Homo sapiens: one gene and its partners. The protein of the gene in region 1 purifies or fractionates together with the protein of each later gene. This does not show direct contact. Each region holds a gene or a part of one and is shown in the gene's direction. Other genes may lie near its edges.

What was found.
Region 2: the proteins of PER3 (region 1) and FAT3 purify together in Homo sapiens (affinity purification with mass spectrometry; one large-scale study listed by BioGRID and IntAct). This does not show direct contact.
Region 3: the proteins of PER3 (region 1) and CCDC88A purify together in Homo sapiens (affinity purification with mass spectrometry; one large-scale study listed by BioGRID and IntAct). This does not show direct contact.
Region 4: the proteins of PER3 (region 1) and CRY2 purify together in Homo sapiens (affinity purification with mass spectrometry; one large-scale study listed by BioGRID and IntAct). This does not show direct contact.

What each region holds. Positions count from the first base shown.
Region 1 is NC_000001.11:7,786,031-7,791,347, forward strand, and holds part of PER3 (period circadian protein homolog 3), read left to right. Parts: intron 1-690; coding exon 691-806; intron 807-1,167; exon of another isoform or gene 1,168-1,216; intron 1,217-2,014; coding exon 2,015-2,216; intron 2,217-5,317. UniProt on the Homo sapiens protein: Originally described as a core component of the circadian clock.
Region 2 is NC_000011.10:92,797,320-92,802,636, forward strand, and holds part of FAT3 (protocadherin Fat 3 isoform 1 precursor), read left to right. Parts: intron 1-516; coding exon 517-4,590; intron 4,591-5,317.
Region 3 is NC_000002.12:55,293,538-55,298,854, reverse strand, and holds part of CCDC88A (girdin), read left to right. Parts: intron 1-2,331; coding exon 2,332-2,597; intron 2,598-2,798; coding exon 2,799-3,258; intron 3,259-5,317. UniProt on the Homo sapiens protein: Bifunctional modulator of guanine nucleotide-binding proteins (G proteins). Acts as a non-receptor guanine nucleotide exchange factor which binds to and activates guanine nucleotide-binding protein G(i) alpha subunits.
Region 4 is NC_000011.10:45,880,112-45,884,563, forward strand, and holds the end of CRY2 (cryptochrome-2), read left to right. Parts: intron 1-802; 3' UTR 803-3,133; downstream 3,134-4,452. UniProt on the Homo sapiens protein: Transcriptional repressor which forms a core component of the circadian clock.

The sequences.
Region 1 (5,317 bases):
CAGATCACGAGGTCAGGAGATCGAGACCATCCTGGCTAATACGGTGAAACCCCGTCTCTACTAAAAATACAAAAAATTAGCCGGGTGTGGTGGCGGGCGCCTGTAGTCCAGCTATTCGGGAGGCTGAGACAGGAGAACGGCGTGAACCCGGGAGGCGGAGCTTGCAGTGAGCCGAGATCACGCCACTGCACTCCCGCCTGGGTGACAGAGCGAGACTCTGTCTCTAAAAAATAATAATGATAAAAATGCAGTAATGATATATCAGGAATTTACCAAACTAAAAATGAACCATTGTAAACACTTTTTCTCTCTGACATTTCCAGGGATTTCATTAAAGCCATATTCTCTTTAGCACAAACCTCAGTGCTTCATATATGATATGTTCCTGAATGACAGAGTACTGTTTCTGCTCCCCCCGCAAAAAAATTGTGTATGCATCTGAAATTTTTAGTTAGTACCTTAAATGTATCTTGCTTCCTGTGATCCAGAACATGCAGAATTCATAAAATCAAATCTTAAGTTTGCACAACTATCAGTATTTTAGGTAAAAGCAGAAAATGATCTGTTTTTGAGAAAAATGCACTGAGGTGTTCTCATCCGAAAAAAATAATCCAGCTTGATAGTGATGAAATGGTTTCCTAAAGATACTGTTGTCACTGGACTACCTGTTTATCTCCCTGTGTTTCTTAGCAAACAGTGAGTTTTTCCAGATTCTCAGTCAGAATGGAGCACCTCAGGCAGATGTGAGCATGTACAGTCTTGAGGAGCTGGCCACTATCGCTTCAGAACACACTTCCAAAAACACAGTAAGAATTCATGCATTTTGCCATATCAACCTGGGTGACTTTTCCTAAGGGCCTGCTCTAGATGTAGGCTTTTAAGAAGGATAACAACGTTTCAGCAACCACAATTTGAGAGAAGCAAAGGAGGAACTGCTAAAGAGGCATGGTGTAGCTTCTCCGCCCTTGCCAGAGAAAACATCTAAAAGCAGAAGCAGCCCGTTCTGTGTGCTGTGCAGCTCAGTGACTTTGGTTATGAGGTGCTTCTAGCTCCTTAGCATTCCCAAGCTCTCTTGAATTAAGAGAAAACAAAAATTACACTGCAGAGTAATTTCCTGCACCTTATTCTAATCTCCGAATTGTTAATTTCTATTTATATCATTCTTAGTTCCAATACCTACTACTTCAAGTTGTAACAACTGGATGTTATAGAACAGGTGAGTTGAGATGCTGTCATTTTTCCTAAAATTTTGGAAGAGACCTTTAGTATATCTTTTTTAATCTCTCTTCTTGTTTGACAGAGTAATCTTCATGTTTGGTTGATACGGTGGAGATTACTTATTTTAAGTAACATAATTGTTACTTAAAGATTTTGTAATAGTGGAACGTGCGCAATCCCTAGTATTATAACAGTGCTTATTTTATGGACTGGTGTGTACATAGTACTGTAGGAGGTGCTATGGAGATTTTTAAAAATAGCTTAAGAAAATATTTGTCTTTTAAGATATTTAAAATAAAGCTAGAGAGGAAAGTATGCCAATGCTAGCAAACACAAACTGCTGATTATAAATAAGTTTCATTTATGTGTAATGGAAAAAATTAGAGCAGTGATGCTTATGTAATGAGGTTTGTCAAGGACAGCTTCTTGAAGAAGGTGAATCTTCAGTGTGTCTTAAAGCATAGAATCTGCGTTGATGACGAGAACACCGTCCACCCAGGTGTATGGCACAGTTTGCAGAGAAGTTATGTGCCATACGTATTTTAGTCTGCATAGAATAAGCTAGTATATTTTTTGGCATAGAAATTGAACCTTCAGTAGGTGAAGTGCAGGTCTTAGGAGAAGATTTAAGAAGCATGTTGGAGAAAATTATTTGAGGAGTTTTGTTGCATTTGTAGGTTGTGCCTGTGTATTTTAAGATACTGGTCATGTTAGAGATCCAGAAGAAATTTACCTTTCAGGGAATATTGCTAGTGAGTATCTCAATATTTGCATTTATTTTAAATGTTTTTCATAGGATACCTTTGTGGCAGTATTTTCATTTCTGTCTGGAAGGTTAGTGCACATTTCTGAACAGGCTGCTTTGATCCTGAATCGTAAGAAAGATGTCCTGGCGTCTTCTCACTTTGTTGACCTGCTTGCACCTCAAGACATGAGGGTATTCTACGCGCACACTGCCAGAGCTCAGCTTCCTTTCTGGAACAACTGGACCCAAAGAGGTAACAGGACCAATGTTCAGATGTCTATCTTTCCTCATCAAGATCAGTTTCATTCTTACAGGAATAGTACAGAAATTAACATATTATTTAGAACATGCACACTATCTGGTTTTTCTTATTCCTGTTATAGAAAGTCACGTGATGAAAACAGCATTTTAAAAGCTTCTGATAACATACTCAATACGTTTGTTTCCATTTTGTCACATCTGTTTCACAGATGATATGTCATAAATATTATTTCATTACCAGCGTATTGTATAGTGGTTTAGTTGCTATGAAGGCTCTGTTTCCTTTAAGTTAAAATTAAATGTTTTTCCTCCTTCATGATTTCCTTGTATGAGAAATTTTACTTTGGAGATAAAATTTGGATCATTAGGCTGGGCAAGGTGGCTCACGCCTGTAATCCCAGCACTTTGGGAGGTTGAGGCAGGTGGATCACCTGAGGTCAGGAGTTCCAGACCAGCCTGGCCAACATGGTAAAACCCCATCTGTACTAAAAGTACAAAAATTAGTCAGGCATGGTAGTGCATGCCTGTAATCCCAGCTACTCAGGAGGTTGAGGCACGAGAAGCACTTGAACCCGGGAGACAGAGGTTGCAGTGAGCCAAGATCACACCATTGCACTCCAGCCTGGGCGACAAGCGTGAAACTGTTTCTGGGGAAAAAAAAAAAAAAAAATTCAGATCATTAGCTCTCTTACAGTTTTTCTTGCCCCTGAAACTTATGAGTCTTATTACTTTGTTTTCCTTCTGGAATGCTTTTCTTTCATAATTCAAAGATGCCTATTGCAGTTTTCTTTGTGACATTCAGTCCTGTGTGATCTTAATTTATTTCTTTTTAGTCATCCTTCATTATTTTATATTCTTTGTGAAGTGTCTCTTAAAGAGCTTTAAAATATATATATATATATATCAGCGTTCTCTTTGATTCCAAGCCCTTCTCTCTAATTAAAAAAAAAATTCATTGTAGTAAAAAACACATACAGTTTACTATCTGATATAGTTTGGCTGTGTCCCCACCCAAATCTCATGTTGAATTGTAACTCCCACAATTCCCATGTGTCGTGGGAGGAACCCAGTGGGAGATAATTGCATCATGAGGGCGTCTTTCCCATGCTGTTCTCGTGATAGTGGATAAGTCTCATGAGATCTGATTGCTTTAAAAATGGGAGTTTCTCTGCACAAGCTCTCTCTCTTTGCCTGCTGCCGTCCATGTAAGATGTAACTTGCCCCTCCTTGCCTTCTGCCGTGATTGTGAGGCTTCCTCAGCCACGTGGAACTGTAAGTCCGTTAAACCTCTTTCTTTTGTAAATTGCCCAATCTTGGGTCTGTCTTTATCAGCAGCATGCAAACGGACCTAATACACCATCTTAATCATTTTTAGGCATTCACTCCATTGCTGTGAAGGATGTTTACATTGTTGTGAAACAGATCTCCATAACTTTTTCATCTTTATATCTGAAATTCTATCTACTATTTCTAATTTTTTACCCAGTAGTTAATTTAATGAAGGGTAGCTTTGCGTGTTTCTTCTTCCAATTATAGATTGCCCCATCTTTTAAAAATATTTTTACATAAGCTCTAGAAAACATGCATGTCATCCCTGCTTGCTTCTAGCTCATCTCTTTTCCCATCTTTCAAAAATACTGATTTTATTTCTCATCCCCTTTCCTAAATACACATTTTCAACCTTTGTCTGTATTTGTTTCTCTGCTTTTGTTAGCTGTTCATTCCGTAAACATTTATTTAATAATCACGTGGGTCAAGAACTAGTCCGGATACAGATACAGCTGTGAACAGGACATACACAATATTGTCTGCCAGGTCTTTCCCATTTTTTCCCCAGGTATTTTTCCTTCAGCACTGCCTGTGGCTTTTCAGCCTTTTCATTTTTGCTGATTACTGATTACTGCGATATTTCCCTTCTGTATTAGTCCATTCTTACGCTGCTATAAAGAACTATCTGAGACTGGGTAATTAATAAAGGAAAGAAGTTTAATTGACTCACAGTTCCACATGACTGGGGAGGCCTCAGGAAACTTACAATCATGGCAGAAGGGGAAGCAAACATGTCTTTCTACACATGATGGCAGGAAGGAGAAGAATGGGAGCCGAGTGAAGGAGGAAGCCCTTTATAAAGCCATCAGATCTCTTGAGAACTTACTATCATGAGAACAGCATGGGGGAAACTGCCCCCATGATTCAATTACCTCCCTCCGGGTTCCTCCCACCACACATGGGGATTATGGGAACTATAATTCAAGATGAGATTTGGGTGGGGATACAGCCAAACCATATCATTCTGCTCTTAAGCCCTCCCAAATCTCACGTCCTCACATTTCAAAATGCAATCATGCTTTTCCAACAGTCCCCCAAAGTCTTAGCTCATTCCAGCATTAGACCAAAAGTCCAAGTCCAAAGTCTCATATGTGACAAAGCAAGTCCCTTTCACCTATGAGCCTGTAAAATCCAAAGCAAGTTAGTTATCTCCTAGGTACAATAGACGTACAAGCATTGGGTAAATACACCCATTTCAAATGGGAGAAATTGGCCAAAACAAAGGGGCTACAGGCCCCTTGCAAGTCTGAAATCCACTGAAGCAATAATTAAATATTAAAGCTCCAAAATAATCTCCTTTGACTCCATGTCTCACATCCAGGTCATGCTGGTGCAAGAGGTGGGCTCCTACAGCCTTGGGCAGCTCTGCCCTTGTGGCTTTGCAGGGTACAGCCTCCCTTATGGCTGGTTTCATGGGCTGGCATTGAGTGTCTGTGGCTTTTCTGGGCTCACAGTGCAAGCTTTTGGTGGATCTACCATTCTTAGGTCTGGAGGATGGTGGCCCTCTTCTCACAGCTCCACTAGGCAGTGCCCCAGTGAAGACTGTGTGGGCTCCGAACCCAAATTTCCCTTACACATCTCTCTTAGCAGAGGTTCTCTATGAGGGCTCCGCCCCTGTAGCAAACTTCTGCCTGGACATCCAGGCATTTCCGTACATCCTCTGAAATCTAGGCAGAGGTTTCCAAACCTCAGTTCTTGTCTTCTGCACACCTGCAGGACCAACACCATATGGAAGCTGCCAAGGAATAGGGCTTGCACCCTCTG
Region 2 (5,317 bases), on another chromosome or scaffold:
GCGAAGTTTGCTTTTGGGATAATCAGAAAACAACTGACTACTTTATAATGCTCTGAAACTATTCCCACAACCCTCTTTCTTTAAACCTAGAACAGAAAATATGACACTGCTACCTAAACCAGTGGCATTCATATGTGGGCTTCCCAATCTATCTGTCTTCTCACAAGGCTGGAAATAAGGAAGTCCTATACATTCTTAGCAGAAAGATCTCTCCTTCGGGCTCTCTTATTTCCCAACTTGAATGCACATAAGACTGTGTCATTGTCATTGTGTTTTTAACCTGGATCTAGAAGTTACTGATCTGAAATTTACTATAATACTGGGAAACTCATTTTGGTTCCTTTTCAGTACCCCTGAAAGAGAAGCCTCTCATTTTATTTCAGAATGACACAGATGAGTACTATAATTGCTTTCTACTTGCCACATTGCAGTAAGGTACCTATAGATAAAGAGTTAATCAAAAAGATTTCAGTGACCCACATGTAACTCATTTCACCATTGATTTCTGTATTTTAGGGAACACTGGGAACATGTTTAAGATCGAACCGGTCCTAGGCATCATCACCATTTGCAAAGAACCAGACATGACGACGATGGGTCAGTTTGTCCTATCCATCAAAGTCACAGATCAGGGATCCCCGCCAATGTCTGCTACTGCAATTGTGCGCATTTCCGTCACCATGTCTGACAATTCTCACCCCAAGTTCATTCACAAAGACTACCAAGCAGAAGTAAATGAAAATGTTGACATTGGAACATCAGTCATTCTAATCTCTGCCATCAGTCAATCTACCCTCATTTATGAAGTCAAAGATGGAGACATTAATGGGATCTTTACCATAAATCCATATTCTGGAGTCATCACCACTCAGAAGGCCCTGGATTATGAGCGCACATCCTCTTATCAACTCATCATTCAGGCCACCAATATGGCAGGAATGGCTTCCAATGCTACAGTCAATATTCAGATTGTTGATGAAAATGATAATGCCCCAGTTTTTCTCTTTTCTCAATACTCAGGCAGCCTAAGTGAGGCTGCCCCAATTAATAGCATTGTCAGGAGCTTGGATAACAGCCCACTGGTGATTCGAGCCACAGATGCTGACAGCAACCGGAATGCTCTGCTTGTGTATCAGATTGTGGAGTCAACAGCAAAAAAGTTTTTCACGGTGGACTCCAGTACAGGTGCAATCAGAACAATTGCCAACCTGGACCATGAAACCATTGCCCATTTCCATTTTCATGTGCATGTGAGAGACAGTGGTAGCCCCCAACTGACTGCAGAGAGTCCCGTTGAAGTCAACATTGAGGTGACAGATGTGAATGATAACCCACCTGTTTTTACTCAGGCTGTGTTTGAGACTATCTTACTTCTACCTACCTATGTTGGAGTGGAGGTTCTGAAAGTTAGTGCCACAGATCCTGACTCTGAGGTACCCCCTGAACTGACATACAGCCTAATGGAAGGCAGTTTGGATCATTTTTTAATTGACTCAAACAGTGGAGTACTTACCATAAAAAACAACAACCTCTCCAAGGATCACTACATGCTGATAGTTAAGGTGTCTGATGGAAAGTTCTACAGTACCTCCATGGTCACCATCATGGTTAAAGAAGCCATGGACAGCGGCCTCCACTTTACACAAAGCTTCTATTCCACCTCAATCTCAGAGAACAACACTAACATAACCAAAGTTGCTATTGTCAATGCAGTTGGAAATCGCCTTAATGAGCCCTTAAAATACAGCATCTTAAACCCAGGAAATAAGTTCAAGATAAAATCTACCTCAGGGGTCATTCAGACGACTGGAGTCCCCTTTGACCGTGAAGAACAAGAGTTATATGAGCTGGTGGTAGAAGCCAGCCGTGAGCTGGACCATCTGCGTGTGGCCAGAGTGGTGGTCAGGGTTAACATTGAAGACATAAATGACAATTCTCCAGTCTTTGTGGGCCTCCCATACTATGCTGCTGTTCAAGTGGATGCGGAACCCGGGACTCTGATTTATCAGGTGACAGCCATTGACAAAGATAAAGGTCCAAATGGAGAAGTGACCTATGTCCTGCAGGATGACTATGGCCACTTTGAAATTAACCCTAATTCAGGGAATGTTATTTTAAAGGAAGCATTCAACTCTGACTTGTCCAACATTGAGTATGGAGTCACCATCCTAGCCAAGGATGGCGGAAAACCTTCTTTGTCTACATCTGTGGAGCTTCCCATCACTATTGTCAACAAAGCAATGCCTGTGTTTGATAAGCCCTTTTATACAGCATCTGTCAATGAAGACATCAGAATGAACACACCCATCCTAAGCATCAATGCCACCAGTCCAGAAGGCCAAGGCATCATATATATCATTATCGATGGGGACCCTTTTAAACAGTTTAACATTGACTTTGACACTGGGGTCCTGAAAGTTGTTAGCCCTTTGGATTATGAAGTTACATCTGCTTACAAGCTGACAATAAGAGCCAGCGACGCCCTTACTGGTGCTAGGGCTGAAGTCACTGTTGACTTGCTAGTTAATGATGTAAATGACAACCCCCCTATTTTCGATCAGCCTACATACAATACAACACTATCAGAAGCATCTCTTATTGGGACACCTGTTTTACAAGTTGTCTCTATTGATGCAGACTCAGAAAACAATAAAATGGTACATTATCAGATTGTCCAGGATACCTACAATAGCACAGATTATTTTCACATAGATAGCTCAAGTGGCTTAATCCTGACAGCACGAATGCTGGACCATGAGTTAGTACAACACTGCACTTTGAAAGTCAGATCAATAGATAGTGGCTTCCCATCACTGAGCAGTGAGGTTCTCGTTCATATCTACATCTCTGATGTAAATGACAACCCTCCAGTTTTTAATCAGCTCATTTATGAGTCATATGTGAGTGAATTAGCCCCCCGGGGCCATTTTGTAACCTGTGTACAAGCCTCTGATGCAGACAGCTCTGATTTTGACCGGTTGGAATATAGCATTTTATCTGGGAATGACCGGACGAGCTTTCTGATGGACAGCAAGAGTGGAGTTATCACATTGTCCAACCATCGGAAGCAGCGGATGGAGCCTCTGTACAGTCTCAATGTGTCTGTCTCTGATGGGTTGTTCACCAGCACTGCACAGGTGCATATTAGGGTACTTGGGGCTAACTTGTACAGCCCTGCCTTTTCACAAAGCACATACGTAGCTGAGGTGAGAGAGAACGTGGCTGCAGGAACAAAGGTAATTCATGTTCGAGCCACAGATGGTGATCCAGGGACTTATGGGCAGATCAGCTATGCCATCATCAATGACTTTGCCAAGGATCGATTCCTCATAGACAGCAATGGGCAGGTCATCACCACAGAAAGGCTAGACCGGGAAAACCCTCTAGAAGGGGATGTTAGTATTTTTGTGAGGGCCCTTGATGGTGGAGGGAGAACAACTTTCTGCACTGTGAGAGTGATTGTTGTGGATGAAAATGACAATGCTCCCCAGTTCATGACAGTGGAATATAGAGCCAGTGTCAGGGCAGATGTTGGAAGGGGCCACTTGGTCACTCAAGTTCAAGCCATAGATCCCGATGATGGAGCAAATTCAAGGATTACTTATTCCCTCTATAGCGAGGCCTCTGTTTCAGTGGCCGACCTCCTGGAAATCGATCCTGACAATGGCTGGATGGTCACAAAGGGTAATTTTAACCAGCTGAAAAATACAGTGCTTTCGTTCTTTGTCAAAGCAGTAGATGGGGGCATCCCAGTAAAGCACTCCCTCATTCCTGTCTATATCCACGTCTTGCCCCCTGAAACGTTCTTGCCATCATTCACCCAGTCTCAGTATTCCTTTACCATTGCAGAAGATACAGCCATTGGGAGTACAGTGGACACCCTGAGGATTTTGCCCAGTCAGAATGTCTGGTTCAGCACAGTTAATGGGGAACGGCCAGAAAATAACAAAGGGGGCATATTCGTCATAGAACAGGAAACAGGCACTATTAAGCTTGACAAACGCCTTGACCGTGAAACCAGCCCAGCTTTCCACTTTAAAGTAGCAGCCACTATACCCCTGGACAAAGTAGACATTGTGTTTACTGTGGATGTAGATATCAAGGTATTGGATTTGAATGACAACAAGCCAGTCTTTGAAACTTCAAGCTATGACACCATTATAATGGAAGGGATGCCTGTTGGCACCAAACTCACACAAGTGAGAGCTATTGATATGGACTGGGGAGCCAATGGACAAGTCACTTACTCCCTCCACTCGGATTCCCAGCCCGAAAAGGTAATGGAAGCATTCAATATTGACAGCAACACGGGCTGGATCAGTACCTTGAAGGACCTAGATCACGAGACAGACCCCACATTCACCTTCTCTGTGGTGGCCTCTGACCTTGGAGAGGCATTCTCTCTTTCCTCCACGGCCTTGGTCTCTGTCAGAGTGACAGATATAAATGACAATGCACCAGTCTTCGCGCAGGAAGTGTACCGAGGGAATGTGAAGGAGAGCGACCCACCGGGCGAGGTGGTAGCCGTCCTCAGCACCTGGGACAGAGACACATCCGACGTTAATCGCCAAGTGAGCTACCATATTACAGGTGAGTAAATACCCCCAGTTTTCATTATGTGCACTGCTTTATAAAGAAAGATGGAAGATGGCGGGGAGAAGAGTAAGAGAGAAGGAAGATGGGATAAGGAGTCCAGTGTAATGAAGCCTCTCTGGAGCTGAGTAAAGGATCTCTGAGCAGACTGCGTTTTTTGCTTGTTGGCTGTTGCTAACTCAGCCTTAGTTTGGAGTTCACAGGTTTGCTGTAAATGTGTTAACCATATTGGTAACTAGTCTTTGTGTCACCTCTTCCTATTTAAAAAGGAGTCCAGCCAAATATCTCAGTTGAAGGAATGAAAATAACAACTTTTTGGTGGAGAGGTTCTGTTTTTAAGCATGTTCCTTTTTTCTACCTTTTGCAATGCTGAGCAAAACAAATAGCTTGATCACAGTAAGCTTCACATGCACACTTCCCCTGGCCATGGCAACACCTGTGCACACATGTACACACATTAGATGGAATGGTTTGATCCTTCCCTGAGAAATCCTAAATTATCACTACAAATCAAGGGGTATTTCTTCTGACAACCAAAATTTTTTGGATTTCTTTTCTGTCTTTCAGAATAGCAAGTAGCAATTCAAGAGGAAAGCCAAGATAGACAAAGTCAGTCATTAGGAAGGCACAGAAAATGTCACTGTTGCCCTGAGAGGCTAAGGATTTCATGTCAGAGTGGTTTCCTGGGGGGCAGGCGACCTTTAACTGAAAGAGGAGAGGGTTG
Region 3 (5,317 bases), on another chromosome or scaffold:
TCACCCAGGCTGAGTGCAGTGGTACTATCTCAAATCACTGCAACTTCTGCCTCCCAGACTCAAGCGATCCTACCACGTCAGCCTCCCACGTAACTGGGACTACAGAGACCCATGCCACCATGCCCAGCTAGTTTTTTTGTATTTTTGTTAGAGACAGGGTTTCTAACATGTTGCCCAGGCTTGTCTCGAACTCCTGTGCTCAAGTGAGGCACCTCATCCAGCCTCTGAATTATTTGACCAATATATCATAGTTACTCTCTGTACTCCAGAATTGTCAGGTTACAAGGAATGCATTTGTTTTGTTCCTTTTTGGATTATAAAATTATTTTGTCTCAGTTGTAATTTTATTTTATCAATTAATGCTATGACATTATTACAGTGATCTGAAATACCTAATTTTGAGGTGGGTTTCTTTTTTTAATTTTTATCATGTTTTTCAGATTTCTTTGTTCCTTTCCCACTCCCACTACTTCATTTGACTAGCCTTAAAAGAAATAAATTATTTAATTAAAAATGTTTTTACATCCAGTAGAAAAATGTAGTCTGAAAATAGGATTTTTTTTTTTCTGATTTGAAAATTTAAGAAACTCTTACTTTTGTAAAATGTTACATAACTTGAGCCAAATTCTTTCGTGGCCCACTTTACTCTCTGTGACTGGGAAACAATGGAAAGTTGCATTTTCTGTTTTGATGTACAGTTTGTTCGTGATCAAAACAAATCCGTACTCTTAAGGAACACCATAGATTTGAGGGAGTTTAATTCTAGAACTAGCAAATTTTCATTTTATATAGTTGCTTAATGTCAACTGAGTCTTTTAAGGTTATATAGGCACCATATCAACAGTGGACAGCAAGAACAATAAGATGATCAAGACATTTAAAAAAGAATAAAGCACTACATATTTGATTGTATACTTTTACTGAAATGTTGTAAGTAATTGCTTCATATCTTTATTTAACTTTCCTTATGTGTATGCTCTTTAAATTTTTTTAAATGTTTAAAGTTATCCATGCAGGATGAACAGAGAAGCCTTCAAGTAGTAATGAGGACTTCTTAGATAAGCAAATAATTAAAATAGAATTTTCTGCATTTAGAACAGTTTTTGGTCTTAACATACTGAAATAATATAAAATTCACCTAATGAGCCAGGTGCGGTGGCTCACACCTGTAATCCCAGCACTTTGTGAGGCCGAGGTGGGCAGATCACCTGAGGTCAGGAGTTACAGACCAACCTGGCCAACATGGTGAAGCCCCGTCTCTACTAAAAGTACAAAAATTAGCCTGGCATGGGGGCGCATGCCTGTAATCCCAGCTACTTGGGAGGCAGAGGCAAGAGAATCACTTGAACCCAGGAGGCGGGGGTTGTAGTGAGCTGAGATCGTGCCACTGCATTCCAGCCTGGGTGACACAGTGAGACCCCATCTCAAAAAAAAAAAATACACACATATGTATATTTATATATAATATATATTTATATATAATATATATTATATATATTTATATATAATATATAAATTTATATATTATATATTATATATTTATATATAATTATATATAAATTATATATATTATATATAATATATATAAAAATACACATTAGATGAAATATATATATATATTTTGTCTAATCATGTTCTTATCCTAAATTGTGAGGCATTTTATTTTATTTATTTTTATTGTTGAGACAGAGTCTCAGGCCAGAGTGCAGTGGCGCGATCTCTGCTCACTGCAACCTCCACCCCCCCAGTATCAAGCAATTCTCCTGCCTCAGCCTCCTGAGTAGCTGGGACTACAGGCGTGCACCAGCACGCCTGGCAAATTTTTTGTATTTTTAGTAGAGACGGGGTTTCTCCATATTGGCCACGCTGGTCTCCAACTCCTGACCTCGTGATCCGCCTGCTTCGGCCTTCCAAAGTGTTGGGATTACAGGCGTGAGCCACCACGCCTGGCCTGCAAGGCATTTTATAACTATTTGAACCTGAATTTTAAAAAATATATTATTCACTTATTTATTCATTCATTTACTCAAAAAATATATTGAATGCTTTGTATGAGGCTCTGTTTAGGCTCTGAGTATGATAGTAAAAGCAAGTCTTTGCCCTTATGGAGCTTACAATAGTTGTCAGTTTGACAAAATAAGGAAGCAGGCTATGGCAGACAATTGTTAGACTGATAAAAGATTGACATGGTTTACTAAGCATTTCTAAATAAAGCTTGAAAGTAAATTTGGCTGTTCATATAATTAGCACACAGTCAACAAATGTTATTACTCATGAAGTATTAATCTCAATTCTATTATTGAAATCTCAACACCCCATTTACTCCAAAAGCAGGTGCAGTTAATAACCAAAGCAGGCCACAAAGCCACAGCAGTGGAGAATTTAGCCTGCTTCATGACCATGAGGCTTGGTCCAGCAGTGGTAGCAGTCCAATCCAGTACTTGAAAAGACAGACCAGATCAAGCCCAGTGCTCCAGCACAAAATATCTGAAACACTGGAGAGTCGACATCACAAGATCAAAACTGGTTCCCCTGGAAGTGAAGTTGTTACTCTACAACAGTTTTTGGAAGAAAGCAATAAGCTTACCTCAGTACAGGTTAGTTTTATCTATGATGACCTTAATTTAGATGAACACCACAAGTTAAATTTCTGTAATTGAACTTCAGAGCTTTTTTTTTTTGGTAAGTTAAGGAGTATTAAGAGGTACCACAATTTTATATTGCACAGTCTGCTAAATCAGGAAAGTAAAAACATGGCACTATATTCACTAATCTGCTTTGAATTTTTTTTTAAACAGATAAAGTCCTCAAGTCAAGAGAATCTTTTAGATGAAGTAATGAAAAGTTTGTCTGTCTCTTCTGACTTTTTGGGAAAAGACAAACCAGTTAGCTGTGGTCTGGCCAGGTCAGTAAGTGGAAAAACCCCAGGGGACTTCTATGATAGACGGACAACTAAGCCTGAGTTTTTGAGACCTGGTCCTCGAAAAACTGAAGATACCTACTTCATTAGTTCTGCGGGAAAACCTACACCAGGCACTCAAGGAAAAATAAAATTAGTAAAAGAATCTTCTCTGTCACGACAATCAAAAGATAGTAACCCTTATGCAACTTTACCTCGTGCAAGCAGCGTGATCTCAACTGCCGAAGGAACTACACGAAGGACAAGCATCCATGATTTTTTGACCAAGGACAGTAGACTGCCTATATCAGTTGATTCACCACCAGCTGCTGCTGACAGCAACACCACTGCAGCATCTAGTGAGTACCATTTACACCAGTGGTCCTCTCATATACTTGACATCCCAACACATACTATAGGTTCTTGTGCCCAAAATGATTTAGCTATAGACATGCCTGAGCCTCTATATGCCCAGGCTAGAAACTCAAGAACAGGAAGGTCACATTTTCTAAACCAAACTTTTGCCACTATTAGGATGCCTAGTGATGCATTCGGAATGTTGGCAAAAGATAGCATAGGACCATTTACTGTGGCCCATTCATCTCAGCCATTCTTATCCCTGAATACAGAATTAGTTAGTAACATAAGTGGGTTACCTCCTAGGCCAGTTATCAGAATAACTGACCAGGCTTCTGCCTCTTTGGATAAACCTGCACAGAAAGAAAATGAACAGTTTTCTGATCATCAGAACCCTAGTAACAGTAACCTACAGTTTTCTATAAATAGCAACAATCTTGTCACTTCTGCATGCCTCTATCCTGATGACACAGAAGCTGCATTGTTGGTTTCTGAGGATAATCAAACTGTTTGGTATGAATATGGTTGTATATGATCAAAACTGCACAATATAATATATTGATGTTATTTGATATACACTGCTTCTCTAATATGATTTGAAAAGTTGCTGTTAACAAAATATCATTTGGCTAGGTTTTTATTTTTTATTTAAAATTGTTGCACAGTGTTCAGCTGTACATGATGGCATGTATATTAATGTGAATGTGTAACCACACCAAAACCTGCATGAAATATTAATTACTTTGTCCATTTTCTGCATGCCTTTAAAAACCTTAACCATACATGCTCCTCCTTCACATTTTTTGTTGCCTGATAAGATTGTTACTTTGATATCCAGAAGCATGTTAAAACAGTTGCATGCTCTCTTACCAAGAAGACATTTCCAAGTCATATTTGCTTTGTTGCTTCTGGAAAAAAATGTTCATTTCCTCCCTCCCTTCCTCCTCTTCCCACCCCTCACTTGCTCTGACTGTCACTCCTTTTTTTCTTCCAGAATGTGTACTTTATATTACATATGTACAGTATCAGTAGGGAAAATGTAAAAAGATGTTGTTTTCTTTTGTCATTTAATTAGGCCATCTGTCCTGTTTTAAAGAAATAGTTAATAATTCAACACTTTATATAACAAATATTAACTAATACCCATATTTATAAAACATTTTTCAGATTTAAAAGATTGTTAATACTTATAAACTTAGTGTTATTCTTAGAAAACCCCATCAAATTTAAATGTGATTTACACAGTGACTAGGAACATTTGTATTTATTGTTTCTTCTCTGCACTTTTCATCATCTGATAAATACAAGAGCTCAAGTAACTGTCTTTTCTTCAAGATGGCTTCTATACTTGAAATCAGTTAATACAATAGTTTTTCCAGTTCTTTTTTTATAGAGAGTCAAAGAGAAATAAACCAAATTATATTCATTGTGTTGGAAATTTGTATTTTTACTTCTAATCAAAAAGGGTAGCAAGTTTACAAAGTGGTAAAAATTGTTACTTCTATAATTAATCTATTATTAAATTATACATGTATATCCTTAAAACAGAATTTTTTTTAAATGAATAATCACACTAAAATGTAAAATTAGAACTTGTAACCATTTAAACAAGTATGTTTCTAGTAGAACAAATTTTAGAACTAAGAATAAATACACTCTTTAGCTTAAAAAAAAAAAAAAAAGTAAGAAAATATTTGTTAACTTTGACTCCAGTGCAAAGAACTTTTATTTTTGTGTTCACAGCACTTTTAAAGCAAATTAGCTAAATTTGAATCTCTAACTCCCAGATTGCTAAAAACAAAAAAACCCATAACCCTGATCCATTTACTTCCAGAGAAATACACATTGGCATTCTCTCTGGAATGTTTTTTGCCATTTGGATTTAGCCTATAGCTGATAAGGACTCAGCCTGGCACCTGGAAGGAATGCCTTCAAATGTGACCATGTGGGGATGAAATTATGTTATACTTGTTGTTGTTGTTGTTGTATTAAGTGGTTATTAACTGGACCAAAGAAAAAATCTGTAGAGAATATTTCCTAATGAAATTTGTCTCCTTTGTA
Region 4 (4,452 bases), on another chromosome or scaffold:
GCACAAGTGTATAGTACCTGACCCACGGCAGGCTTAGTAAGCCTACTTATTGTCTACCTCACCCACATTTAAACTGCACAAACTTTTAATGGGACGCTGTGTGTCTCTGTAGACTCCCAGACACACTAAACCTATTTAAACAGACAACTCAGCATTGTGACAGGCGCACTCTGTCCTTCCTTTATTATCAGGGATGAAGCTGTTTCTTCTCTTTGCCCCAGATTCCGGATGTCATAAATCTTTAAAATGAGTCATCCTTGTGTCTCCTCTCTCCCTCCTGCCCCCACAATCTTCCAGCACTGTGCCAGGGTGCTTTCATCTATATGTGGAAATGTGCTCACCTGCTGATTGTAAACTCAGTCATTGCCTTACTCTTCAAAATTACTGGTCCCAGCGGGCTTCTCTTCCAGCCATTTTTTCCTGATTCTCCATCTCTGGCAGCAGCTGCTGTGCCTTGATTCAGAAGCTGCCCTTGTCATATCTGAGCAAGTATCCCCCAGGGCTTCACGTGACTCTCACATAGCCTTGTCCTCCTCCTCCTCTGCTGTCCGCAGCCCTGGGTGGAGGGCCTGCAGTGGGGAGCTTGTCCTGCATCAGCACCTCAGAGGGGCAGTATTCCCTCATCCCAGTGGCATCCCAGCAACAACCTGTCCCCAGGTACCGTGGCCCTTTCAGCTCACTCTTTCAGCTCTTCTCAGGTCCCGCTCTGAATGTCCCCAGAGAAGCAGCCAGAGGAGCTTGTGTCCCTGGGCAACTGAGCAGCCTCCTGAATGCTCCTTTTGCACTTGTTTTTCTCTTCCAGCTGCAGAGCCCTTGCTCCGTGAGCAAAGCCTGGGTGCCCAAGCAGCCACCGCAGCAGCAGAGTACAACCTGCAGAGAAGCTGATCACCGGGCAGAGATAGAGCGAGCATGTGTGTGTGTGTGCGCGTGTGCAGAGGAGGGAGTGGTGTGCCTGTTTGTGTGTGCATGCATCTGTTGACACTCATGATTCTGAATGTTGCCTGGGCTGGGGGAGTACCTGTAGCACGCCAGTGCTGTTTCCCGGCCTCCAGACACAAGGCTCGAGGTTATGGCAGTGACTTTCAGCTGAGACCTGTTCCTGCAAGCCAGCTGCCTTGTCTGAACAGAACGTAGTGGTAGGACCCTAGCTGGGATTCTGGCATCTGCCTCCCTAGACCTCCTTCCCTCCCTCCTCACGTCAGGCTGTGGAGCAGGAGCACAGCAGTTCTGGCTGTTGTCCAAAGCATGGGATTCTGGAGGCAGCCAGAGCCCTGCTGAGTTCCTGCTTTCTGACCTGGAGGCTGAGCAGGCCGGAGTGGATGGATGCTGTCCAGACGTAGCCACCTGGCCTCTGTTTCTTATTTTAAAATTCTCTGCTACTGGGCTCAGTCCCAGGCCCTTCCTTGGGCTTCTGGGACTGAGCATGAGGCCATAGACAGATCTAAAAAGTTTCCACCACCCTACAGAAGTACACACAGATACCTGACTGGTGTGGGGTATGCCTGGTACTGTAATAGGAGCCTAAGACAGCACACCTACCTTTTCAGGATTTAGAACCTAAAATTAGAAAGAGAATCCCAGCTGTCATTGTTCCTTCCCCAGAAGCTAAGAGCCAGCCTCAGAGCCTACCCAGGAGCTGTGAAGGGGCAAGGGTCAAACTGACTCACTCTACCAGGAGGAGACCAGGTTGCAGTGGCGTAAGGCCCCCTGGTTTCTCTGGCCACACTCCAAGGCACCACAGTGCTGCCAGTGAGGACAGCTGACACCCAGCCAGGGAAACCATTCTAGTCTTTATTCTGTTGGCTTCCAGGGCCTGTCCTGGACTTGTCAGCATCCAGACTGCCATGTCAGCTATCCCAGTAGCTGAGCTCCAAGGACTCAGGCAGAGGGACTCAGGGATGGGGACTGCCAGGGGCAGTTGGCAAAAGTCCAAGTAGAGATTACACCCAGAACACCATTCCTTCCAGGAGCAGTAGGTGGGAGGTTTGACCCAGAGAAGCCAATCCTTGCATTCCAGGAGTGGCCTGTGCCTCCCACCTCTTCCTTCCCACTGCCAAAGGCCTGTGTTGAGAAAGATGTCATGCAAAAGGACGACGGTGGCCAACTAAAGCAAGTCTTCCTTCCACCCTGTGGCCTGCACTTGAGCCACAAAGTGTGTGTGTGTGTGTGCGTGTGTGGTACGTGTGTGTGTGTGTGGCTATGAGGCTGATTCCTGTTTGGATTTTTGTCCTCACGTGTATCATTAAGCTGGCCTTTGGGCCTTTTCCTTTCTACCTCCCCTGTGACCTTTCCTAGCCTCAGATCTGTTAATTCTTTTGGCCCCAGCCCTGTCCCTCACTGTCCTCTGTCCTTGGACCAGAACCCTGGGGTCAGACCCATCTCCTGTAGCTGTCCATCACACTGACAGGCTTCTTCCTGAGATATCCTCAGGTTTTCTCAGCCAGAGAGCTGCCTTTAGAGTCCAACTGTTGTACGTATGTCACCTTCACTAGAAATGTCCCATCATCGTGGGAGGGGAGCAGGGCACAGGGGATGGTGTGCATTCAGAGCATTGGGTTGGGGGCTTCCCTGTTCCCTCAGCCCCAGTCGAGAGGAAAGAGAATCGGGCCACTGCCAGAAAGAGAGTCAAGCAAACCTGGAAGGGCAAATCTGAGAGTGGGAAGGCCAAAGGCCGAGGCCCAGATTTAGTATTCACTAGCAGCGCCTTCGGGTAGCAGGATGATTCCTTTTCCTGCCTGTCTGCTGCTGGCTCTCTTCCCTAAGGTACAGGTTGGCAGGACCACCTCCGCCTACTTCTCCACCATCCCTAGCATGTCAGCCCGTTCCCAGATCAACCTGCCAGTGGAGTCAGGCAGTGCACTCCTGGAGCCAAGAGGGAAGGGCAGGGTAGAGAGGGTATGTCCAGTAGCCTGGAGCTCCATGGTGGCTTCATGCCTCCCTTCTCCCAGCTCAGGTGGCCCTGAGGGCTCCCTCGGAACAGTGCCTCAAATCCTGACCCAAGGGCCAGCATGGGGAAGAGATGGTTGCAGGCAAAATGCACTTTATAGAGATTTTCTATTGCTGGGAAGGTGTGTTTCTCCCACAATTTGTTTGTGAATATTCACTTGTTTTATAAATGTCTGACCTGTCTTGAGTAAGTTTGTGCTGTCGTCAATCTTGTGGGAGGCCTGGGAACCAGGGTTTTGGTAAGCCTGAGCCTGAATGAAGCTGTCGGCCACCCCATCTTGGTTCTGTGGGAGTCAGGAGCCTCCTATTCCTCCTTAGGAAGGGGGAGCAGCCAGAGCAGACTGGAGCAGCTTGGTCAAGAGTTGGTCCAGAGCTTGGTCAAGAGTTGGGGGTCAATTGGCCAAAATAGTACAGAGCACTCTGGCCCAGAGTGAGGGTCCTAAGTGCCATCCTGCAGTGCCACCCAGCCTTGCAGCCCACTTAAACCCCCTCCCAGGCTGGGGGTCAGTCAGTGCAGGGCCTGCTCCACGCCCTCAATCCATCCTTTAATTCAATGCAGCCACTTAAGCTGCAGCCTGTGGTGAGGAGGGGATGCAGGCTCTCTGGCTGTGACTAGGTGGTTGAGATCTGCCCACAGCCAAGCCTAGGGCGCCTGGATGCTGGCTTTGTCTCCTGGCCAGAGAATGGCCCCTCTCTGTGCAGTGTGCCCTGCTTCCATGCTAGGGGATGCTAGCCTTGGACTGAAAGCTTTATTAGCTCACACCCCAACTTTCTGGGAAGGGGCCCAGGCAAGGCCCAAGAATATCACAGTCTGGCCTGCACAGAGTGAAGAAGGAGAAAAGGGGAGGAACCTGCCTTGGGAACTTGTCTCATTCTTGGCTCTGCTCTGAAGCTCCTGCTGGCCTCCCTCATACCAAGACCTGGGCCTGCCTTTCCTTCTTGCCCTTCTGGCTTCTCTCTAATAATGGCTTTGGGTTGGTCTTTGGAGCTAAGATAACTTTGCTCTTGAGCAAAAGGTTCTGGAAGAGGGAGTTGTCCTTTACATCCACCCCTGACCTGCTAAGGATGTTCCCTAGCTGAGGCAGGTCTACATTCTAAGGAACGATTAGTAGCCATGATGGCAAGACTGCTTTCCTGAGAGGAAAAGCCAGGCACCATGGCAGCAGATGATTACCGTGAGGGCCCAGTGAAAGGGGCCTGATCACGAAAGCTGAGAAAGTAGTGGCCACCCCTCTGGGCCCCAGGGACAGGGAAAAGAGAAGCAGCCATGACCTTTGGCTCTAGGTATTGGGATATTCTCAGGGCTGGTGGTCGGAGGTTGCCTTCTGCACGGAAGGTGCCTCCAGCTCCTTGCTAGGTGCCGCACTGAAGGAAAGGGGCCAGCATGACTGGTCGGCAGTCCAGATTTGCAAATAGGACTCCACGAGTTGTGGCACAGTTTGCTCTGCACGTTTTCTGCCCTGTGGACAGGGTCTCTAGGGTTCTCTCGAGAGACCAGAGAAGCCA